Linked DNA regions of Homo sapiens: regions 1 and 3 are each linked to region 2. Evidence: fine-mapped QTL for protein levels in blood plasma. A gene starts in region 2. Each other region holds a variant in brackets. All regions are shown on one strand. Distances are from middle to middle.

The links. A credible set is the group of variants that fine-mapping cannot tell apart. PIP is the chance, under the fine-mapping model, that this variant and not a neighbour inherited with it causes the effect. The UK Biobank Pharma Proteomics Project read protein levels with antibody pairs (Olink). The fine-mapping took linkage between variants from a reference panel, not from the people measured, so its PIPs are less certain.
Region 1: its variant is the best candidate, but not a certain one, in a credible set for the plasma level of the PER3 protein (UK Biobank, PIP 0.55).
Region 3: its variant is the best candidate, but not a certain one, in a credible set for the plasma level of the PER3 protein (UK Biobank, PIP 0.53).

What each region holds. Positions count from the first base shown.
Region 1 is chr1:7,770,552-7,773,309 of GRCh38, reverse strand. It overlaps VAMP3 (vesicle associated membrane protein 3), which reads right to left and starts at 2,014. Exons shown (of 5, transcript NM_004781.4): 1 at 1,925-2,014. The coding sequence starts at 1,926. RefSeq lists silencers at 1,651-1,880, 1,845-2,087 and enhancers at 2,321-2,370, 2,114-2,758. The variant T/A (reference allele first, on the strand shown) is at 1,207.
Region 2 is chr1:7,783,502-7,786,250 of GRCh38, reverse strand. PER3 (period circadian regulator 3) reads right to left here and starts at 1,960. Exons shown (of 22, transcript NM_001377275.1): 1 at 1,875-1,960; 2 at 1,246-1,597; 3 at 665-810. The coding sequence starts at 1,373. RefSeq lists a silencer at 1,885-2,494.
Region 3 is chr1:7,804,880-7,807,637 of GRCh38, reverse strand. The region is part of intron 10 of PER3 (period circadian regulator 3); the gene reads right to left. Among named protein-coding and RNA genes, the nearest start is that of PER3, 22 kb to the right of the region's middle. The variant C/T (reference allele first, on the strand shown) is at 1,615.

The DNA.
Region 1 (2,758 bases), 13 kb after region 2:
TTCCTGAAGCAATGAACGAAAGTTTTAATTGCATTTCTTCTAATTTCTCTATAATTTCCAAGACTGTCCCACCTACTAAAGGGACAAATGTTAAGCTTTAATAGGACCTACTTTGTATCCCTGAAGTATCTGATCCCACGATAGGTAAGCTCTACTGTCCTTTTTTGAAACTTGTTCTAAGGCACACATCTGCTTGAATGTACTCAGTACTTTCCTGATCTTTTCATTGTGGAAGGAACTGTTTTCATAGTTACAAACAGTTACAGAATGCCCTTTTTCCAATATGGAAAAATAGATTAATTTACAGAAACAGAGTCAGGAACACTGGGATGCAGGGAGTGGGTGGTGTGAGTGGAAAGGTGTGTTGAAGAAATGCCTCCTCTTTTAGGAAGGTACTCTTTCTTTTTCCCCCTCTTTTGAGAGACGGAGTTTCGCTCCTGTTGCCCGGGCTGGAGTGCAATGGCGCGATCTCGGCTCACTGTAACCTCCGCTTCCTGGGTCCAAGCAATTCTCTTGCCTCAGTCTCCCAAGCAGCTGGGATTACAGGCATGTGCCACCACGCCCGGCTAATTTTGTATTTTTTAGTAGAGACGGGGTTTCACCATGTTGGTCAAGCTGGTCTCGAACTCCTGACCTCAAGTGATCCGTCCACCTCGGCCTCCCAAAGTGCTGGGATTACAGGCATGAGCCACCGCGCCCGGCCCAGGAAGGTACTCATCTTTTAAAATCTTCATCAAAGGCTTTATTTCTCCCCATGCAGATCTTTCTTAACCACTCTGACTCTGAAGTCATTATTGGCTCCATTACTTGGAAAGTATCACTTTGGTTTTTCAGGTATAAAGTCCCGCCTCCTCGAATAGATCACAGGTTCCTGGGTCTTCTTACTCTCTTCTCTGTATCCTAGATAGCACCTAGCATGTGCCTTGGTATACAACAGTCTGATGGGCTGTTTGAACAGTCACTTTACATCTGTCATGTGTCAATGACCAGGGCTACAACAGATCTCATCACCGTCCTCACGGAGTTTAGTATCTGGTAGATAAGTAAGGACCATGCCGTGGCGCTAGACTCTTTCCATGCTTTTCCTCCTTTAACCCTCATAACTCTCTGAGGGGAATATTACTCCTATTTTACAAATGAGTAAAGTGAGGTTTAGAGAGTCAACACAGCTGGCTGCAGGACAGCTTGTTTTTAGATCAGGTCCTG[T/A]GTACCTTGGCTCTAGATCTTAACCACTGTGATCTATTGGCACAGCAGCCTCAGCAGGAACATTCGAGGGGGGTCCCCAGCTCCTGGAAGAAACCCGGGGCTTCCTCCGACGGTGAGCAATGAGCAGAATGGAGGTGGAAGAGGGAGTCCTTGTGATTCTTAACCATTAGCATTCTCTGAGTCTTACCACTGGAAGCAGGGGTTTGCAACGTGCTTTCGCTTAAGAGAGCGAAGGCCCACGGTTAAGTGATCTTTCCAGTGCAGATGCCCCTAGCTAGGCAAGGAGCTCTTCGGCCCACAGGGGCTCAGGACAGGGCCGAGGTCCTTTCTTTCGCAACTTCTGGGGCCCAGCGCAGCACCGGGCCGAGAGCGGGCGCTCCCGAACCAGGGCTGTCGTCCCCATTCCTCTCAGGGACGTCGGGGACTAGAAAGGGAAGGGGCGAGGAGCGGGCTGCGGGCGGGCAGCTCACTTCCTCCGGGAAGCGTCTCGCCGCCCCGCCCTTGCCCCTTCCGCGTCCGCCCGATGGCCGCGGGACCCGCCCGGCCCGTCTGCAGCCCGCGACCCAAGGGCCACCGCCCACCCCCAGGCCTCGGGATCCCCGCGCAGCCCCGGCCTGCGTCCGAGTGGCGGCCGGCGGCAACTGGGCAGTATGGCGGTCCCAGCGCGAGCTGCCGCCTGCGGGGCCCGAAGCCGCCCGCGTCGCGTAGCGTCACTCACATTTTGGCAGCTGCGGCGGCGGCAGCGGCGACGAGAGAGGGTCAGCAGAGAAGCGAAGTTGGGACCGGAGGCCAGGGAGATGGGTGGGACGGCGCGGCGCGGGGCAAAGACGTCACTAGGCGGAGCCGGGGGAGTGGGCGGGGCGAAGAGGGGGCGCGCCGGAAGTGGGCGGGGGCGTCGTGGGTGGGTGCGTCCAGGGCGGGGTCAGAGCGAGACGTCCCCTCCCCGGACGAGGTCACTTGGGAACTTGAGGGCCACAGGGGTCCCAGGGCGGTCCGGGCTCTGAAACGCAGAACGCAGGTCAATACAGCTCCCTGTCCGCACCGCCGTCCGCGCTGGCGCTTGGGGACGTGGTCTGTAAACGTGGTGCATTAGCCACTGGCGAGGGACTGCGTGGATAAGTGAGGGTGGGGGCAATTCATGTTATTCTGGGCTCGGGACCATTTCTAACAGTATTAGAGACAGATGACTGGCTTCTGCTGAGTGTTCCAGAGTAACCTAGTGATCCTGAGGGCACCATGTTTCTCTAAAGTAGTTGAAATAGGAAGTCCATTTCGGGTATTTGTCACATGGTGTTGGGTGAGGTTCCCGCTCATGTTTTCATCGGTGACACAAATATTTGTCACTGCAGATCATATTATAATCTGCTTACGAGAGCCTTGGCATCAAGGCTGTAGTTCCTTTATTTCTGTATTTTCAGGCCCTAGCACAGAATAGGTCCTCAGGTTTTGGTCGAAGGGAGGGAAGCACAAATCTGAACGCAGTGAGTTACCTTGTATATATTTGTTACTGAAATATTCCTACCAACATAGTTACCTACACCAAAAAATAAAA
Region 2 (2,749 bases):
CAGAGTCTCGCTCTGTCACCCAGGCGGGAGTGCAGTGGCGTGATCTCGGCTCACTGCAAGCTCCGCCTCCCGGGTTCACGCCGTTCTCCTGTCTCAGCCTCCCGAATAGCTGGACTACAGGCGCCCGCCACCACACCCGGCTAATTTTTTGTATTTTTAGTAGAGACGGGGTTTCACCGTATTAGCCAGGATGGTCTCGATCTCCTGACCTCGTGATCTGCCCGCCTCGGCCTCCCAAAGTGCTGGGATTACAGGCGTGAGGCACCGCGCCCAGCCTCATTACTGCATTTTGAAAGTATGTGTACGGCATGTAAAGGTAACTATTTCGTGGAATGCATTTTTTTCCCATAACTTCCATAGAAGACAATATTTCTTTAAAAGGTCAGCCTTCAAAATGTGCTTATGCTAAACTCTACTCTCTTGCAACACATGAGCAAAACATTGCATAGGTATTATACACTATTATACAGATAAAGTTTTCCTGGTCTTTCACATGTGAACAATTAAGACACGAATGGAATCGGTGTAGATTTGCTCATCTTCCACAAAGCACCAGAAAAAGCTCAAATTATTTGTCTGACTGAGACCCCACTGACCACTCCTCTGGCTGCTTGTATGAGTCCTGGTGCATTCGTAGGATGAAATTTCTCTCCGGCTTGTTTACCTTGAACGCTGTGGACACAGCGGAGAGCATAGTTGAGGGCATCTAGAGTGCTTGGTTTATTGCGTCTCTCCGAGGGGAAGTATTTTTTCATTTCTTGGACAACCATGATAAGTTCTTCAGAAACTCTGTTTCGATCTTGCTGTTCACTGGAAGATAAAAAAAAATTACAACTTCATCCTCTGAAGACAACAGCATCTTGCGGCTTAGGGAACACAAACTGCAAGCCAGGTAAGTTTCTAAGTGCTCTACCGGCATCAGTCCACAGGGTGGTGACCCCTCTTCCTCTAGGTGGGGAACTCGAGGCAAAGCAACTGGTGAATGACAAACATTCTCCACTTACTTTCCCTTAATCCACTTGAGCCCCAACTCAGCTAACTTTTGTAACCACTTTTCCCTCCTGATACTCTTCGGTAATTTTCTTCAGTGTCACGGATCACTTCATCCTACATTGCCCGAGTCTCCCCTTTACACTTTCCCCTGGGCTTGAAAACAAAAGAATAAAAAGATTTAGGTCCCCCTTTCCCTGCTCCAGGGAAGGACAACGAACGCATGGGGCCCTCGGCCTGAAGCCAGCGCGTCACCTGTGGCTGCTGTCCGCCAATTTCCTCTGCAGATGGAACTCGGGGCTCCACCGCTCCCCCGATTCTTCGCCCAGGGCCTCGTCCTTAGCCCCCCGTCTCCCGGGGCCAGGAGCTTCCCCGCGGGGCATCTCGAGGTCTCCGCGGGGCTCCACGTCGTGCTGGGACGGCCCGCAGCCTGCTTCTCGCTCACTTTGCAGTCAGTGACAGACACCGGTTTCTCACTCCGGTCCCCGCCATGGCGTTAGTGAGAACAGGCGGCCACCACGAGCCAGGGGGTCACGCTCATCTCCGAGGAGCTTTTCCCTCCAACATTTTCAAAACCCGGAGCTCGCTCGACTTTCAGGACTCCGGCCTAGGGGGAGGAGACAAGGGTGACAAGGGACAAATGGAACAGACAGTCCGACGCCAGCGGCCCGGCTGGCTGGGGCGCCCCGACCGCGCGGTCCTCACCCCTGCCCCAACTTTCCCGCGCGCCGAGGGATGGGGCCCGGGGAGGCGGGTGGCTCGGAAGCGCCACGCTCCGGGGGCCCCCAGTACCGAGGGCAGGGCTCGCGGGGCTCCTCTGCCGCGCGCGAGTGCCCAGAACTCCCGCCCGGCCGCCCAGAACTCCCGCCCGGCCGCGCACTCACCTGCTGCCCCCGCCCTTGGCCCCGCGCACAGCCGCTCGCCCCCGGGGCCGCCCTCGCGCAGTCTCGAGGCTCGCCGCGTGCCGGTCAGCAGCCGGCGCCGCGCCCCCTGCCGCCGCGTGACCGGTCCCGCCCCCGGGCCGTGCGATTGGTCGTCGGGGCCGACTCCGCAGGCCTCCATTGGCCCTGGGGCGGGGCGCGAGCCGGTGCGCCCGGGTTATATAAGCCAGGGCGAGGGGGCGGGGCCCCCGGGGCGCGTTACATAACGCGCGGGCTCGGGCGGAGGCCGGCGCTCGGCCAATCCCAGCAGGCCGGCGGGCGGGCAGGGGACGGGGTGGCCCTCAGCGGCCTCAGGCCTGTGCCGCGCGACTGGAGTGTCCGGCCCCCTGGCACGGCGCCGGGGCGGAGCCGCTGAAGCCAGCGCAGAAATGATAGGGCCAGGAAGCTGCCAGCCACGTGGGGGCGGGACCCGGGCTCTGTGGGGCGGGGCGGGTCCGGCCCAACCTCCACGTGAGAGGCGGGCGGGGAAGGAGAGGGGAGTGAGAGGCGGGGGCAGAGAGGGGCGAGAGGCGGAGTCGGGGGGCTTGAGTCGGGGTCAGGGGGAGGCTGGAAATGGGGACGGATGGGGGCGAGAGGCGGGGACGGGGGGGCGGATGGGAGCGGGGGTGCCGAGAGACGTGGGGAGCGAGAGGCAGGGGCGGGGGGGCGACGGTGTCGAGGGCGGGGGCATTAGAGGGAGGGAGAGGCGGGGACTGGGGGCGAGCAGGGGCGGCTCAGGCCAGCGCTCTGGGGTCGAGTCCTGGAGTTTGTAGGTGGCTCCCGGCTGCCCGAGCGGGTGTGGGGAGGAGCCCAGGGTGGGGCGGGCTGCCGGCAGCGGT
Region 3 (2,758 bases), 21 kb before region 2:
AGTCAGGGGATGAGGTACTCTGAGGAACTGGCCCAAGTTCACATAACCGAGAAGCAGCAGTTAGGATTTGAATCCGCCTACGTCTGACCCCCAAGCCTGGGCTGTCCTTTTTCCATTATGCCAGCCTGCCGTTTCTCAACTGATACATGCAGCTCAGTTACCTAAAAACTGAAACAGTTTCCCAAAGGCAGAAATTATCAAGACAATCATAGGATGCTGACAGTATCGTAAAAGCAGTCAGGAATATCTCCACGTCTAGGGACTATTCACTCACCCTGCACATTTCCATCACAGTGGAACAGCTGCACCAATCGCCTTTCTCTACTTTAGCATCTAGACTGTATCTAGATCAATATCTATCTGCATGGCGTCAGGTACACCATATGTCTGTGGCAAGCAGTACCTGAATATATAACCTTATTTCACAACTTGACACACTATACGTTTTATGTAACTGTCTCTCCCTATATCCCACTGCCAGGTAAGTGCCACGGGGTGAGGTATTTTGTCTACTTTGTTCACTCCTGGATCTTCAGTACCTAGAACAGTGTCTGGTCCATAGCAGGCACCCACTACATATTTGCTAAAGGAACAAATACATGGTTGATTGATCTGGGAATAAAAGTACACCTGGTTCCTAATATAAACACATTGTGAGCTTGAAAACCTTTCAGAGGTATTTGGAATTTGTTTTTTGAGTGAAATGGAAATAGAACAGATTGCTTTATGAGATTTACATATTCCTAGTTGTGAAAATTTCTACAAAACTAAATTGTGTATGTATGTGTGTGTGTGTATGTAATATATATATATATATATATATATTTTTTTTTTTTTTTTTTAAGAGACAGGGTCTTGCTCTGCTGCCCAGCCTGGAGTGCAGTGGTGCAATTCTGGCTCACTACTGCCTTGAACACCTGGACTCAAGCAACCCTCTTGCCTCAGCCTCCTAAGTAGCTGGGACTACAGGCACGTACCACCATGCCCAACTAATTTTTGTTTTTAAATTTTTTGTAGAGAAGGGGTCTCACTATCTTGCCCAGGCCAGTCTTGAACTCCTGGCCTCAAGTGATCCTCCTGCCTCAGCCTCCCAAAGTGCTGGGATTATAAGCGTAAGACACTAAAATGTATTTTAAGTCAGTAACTATGTAATGCAGAACTGATTAATCTGCAGGCAATAAGGAGACAGCCTTCATGAAACAGCAACAAAAATGCCATGAAGTATTTATTGCTTTGCTGTGTATGTGAAGTGAAGTAGGAGTAAGAGAGAAAACTTGGCTGCAGTCTCCACTTTCACTCCTCCCGAAGTGATCCCTGGGAAGGCTACTCTAGTTTACTGAGTATGGATTTTACCTGTAAAATGAGAGCTGAGGACACCTGACCTGCTTGCCTGCAGTGCTGCTGGGAAGGACTGAGAGAGATACAGGCAGGGTCCCTTGCTAAACAGTCTTGCAGCCCCCTTCCCATTTCAACTGTCACACTTACCAAACTCTAGTTATATATGACAGTGCCATTTTTATTTACTGTCTCTCCCATTACAGTGTGGGTTTCCTGATGGTAAAGAGAATGTTTTGATTACCATTACATTCTCAAGGCCCAGCACACTGTCTTACA[C/T]AGAGCTTTATACTTTATAAATATAATGAATAATTAATATTTTATGAGCAAGATTAATACCTACTAGACCTTAAATCCTTTCCCTCACATAATCTTTGTTGTTAAGATGTAAATACCAGTGTAATTTTTTAAAATACTGAAAACATTCTGAATATTCATTATATGTTGCATAATTTCACATATATTTCATCAAAGAACTGAAAAGAGAGCTTCAGAAATCCAGGCCGTATCTTTAACCCTGACTGGGGCTGGGGAACACAGACCATCAACGAGCCCCAGATGGAAGCCTCATGAAGGCATCTTACTGGCTGCAGTTTCCTACGTTCATGCCAAGCAACCATCGGATTTCATGTTCATTTCCCAATAGGTTTCCGTACTTGGGGGGTATGGGGTGGGGAGAAGGGACAAAGTCCTTTCTGAGCAATACCAATGGTAATTACTTGGCAGCTGTATTTCTTAATAATCAAATTCGTTTTCTAGCACAAATCAGTCTCATGAGTTAGGGCGGCCAGGAGCCCATTTCTTCCATTAAGTTCTACACGTGCTCTGCGGAGGGGCCAAACCCTGGAGTAGAAAGAGGTAAGAGCAACCTTGAGACCTCTTCTCACCATGGCTCGGCATCATCTCTACTGTAATATTAACAGGTGATCAAATACGTCTTACTGGTAGATCTACTGTTCTCAGGTTCATGTTCATGTAGACAATGCTGTATAACAAGATACCAAAAAACATAACTTCTCGATCTCAGCATGATACTGGAGTCAAGTAAAATTTCCATGCTTAAAAAAGATAGACATCAGAGGGAAACCTAGAGCCAGGTCAAAAGGCCTAGAGTTCAATTAAAAATGGACCACAGGGTTGGGCGTGATGGCTCACACCTGTAAGCCCAGCACTTTGGGAGGCCAAGGTGGGTGGATCATTTGAGGTCAGGAGTTCGAGACCAGCCTGGCCAACATGGTGAAACCTGTCTCTATTAAAAATACAAAAATGAGCTGGGTGTGGTGGCGTGCACCTGTAATCCCAGCTACTGGAGAGGCTGAGGCAGGAGAAACGTTTGAACCCAGGAGGCGGAAGTTGCAGTGAGCCGCGATCAGGCCACTGTACTCCAGCCTGGGTGACAGACTGAGATCCTGTCTCAAAAAAA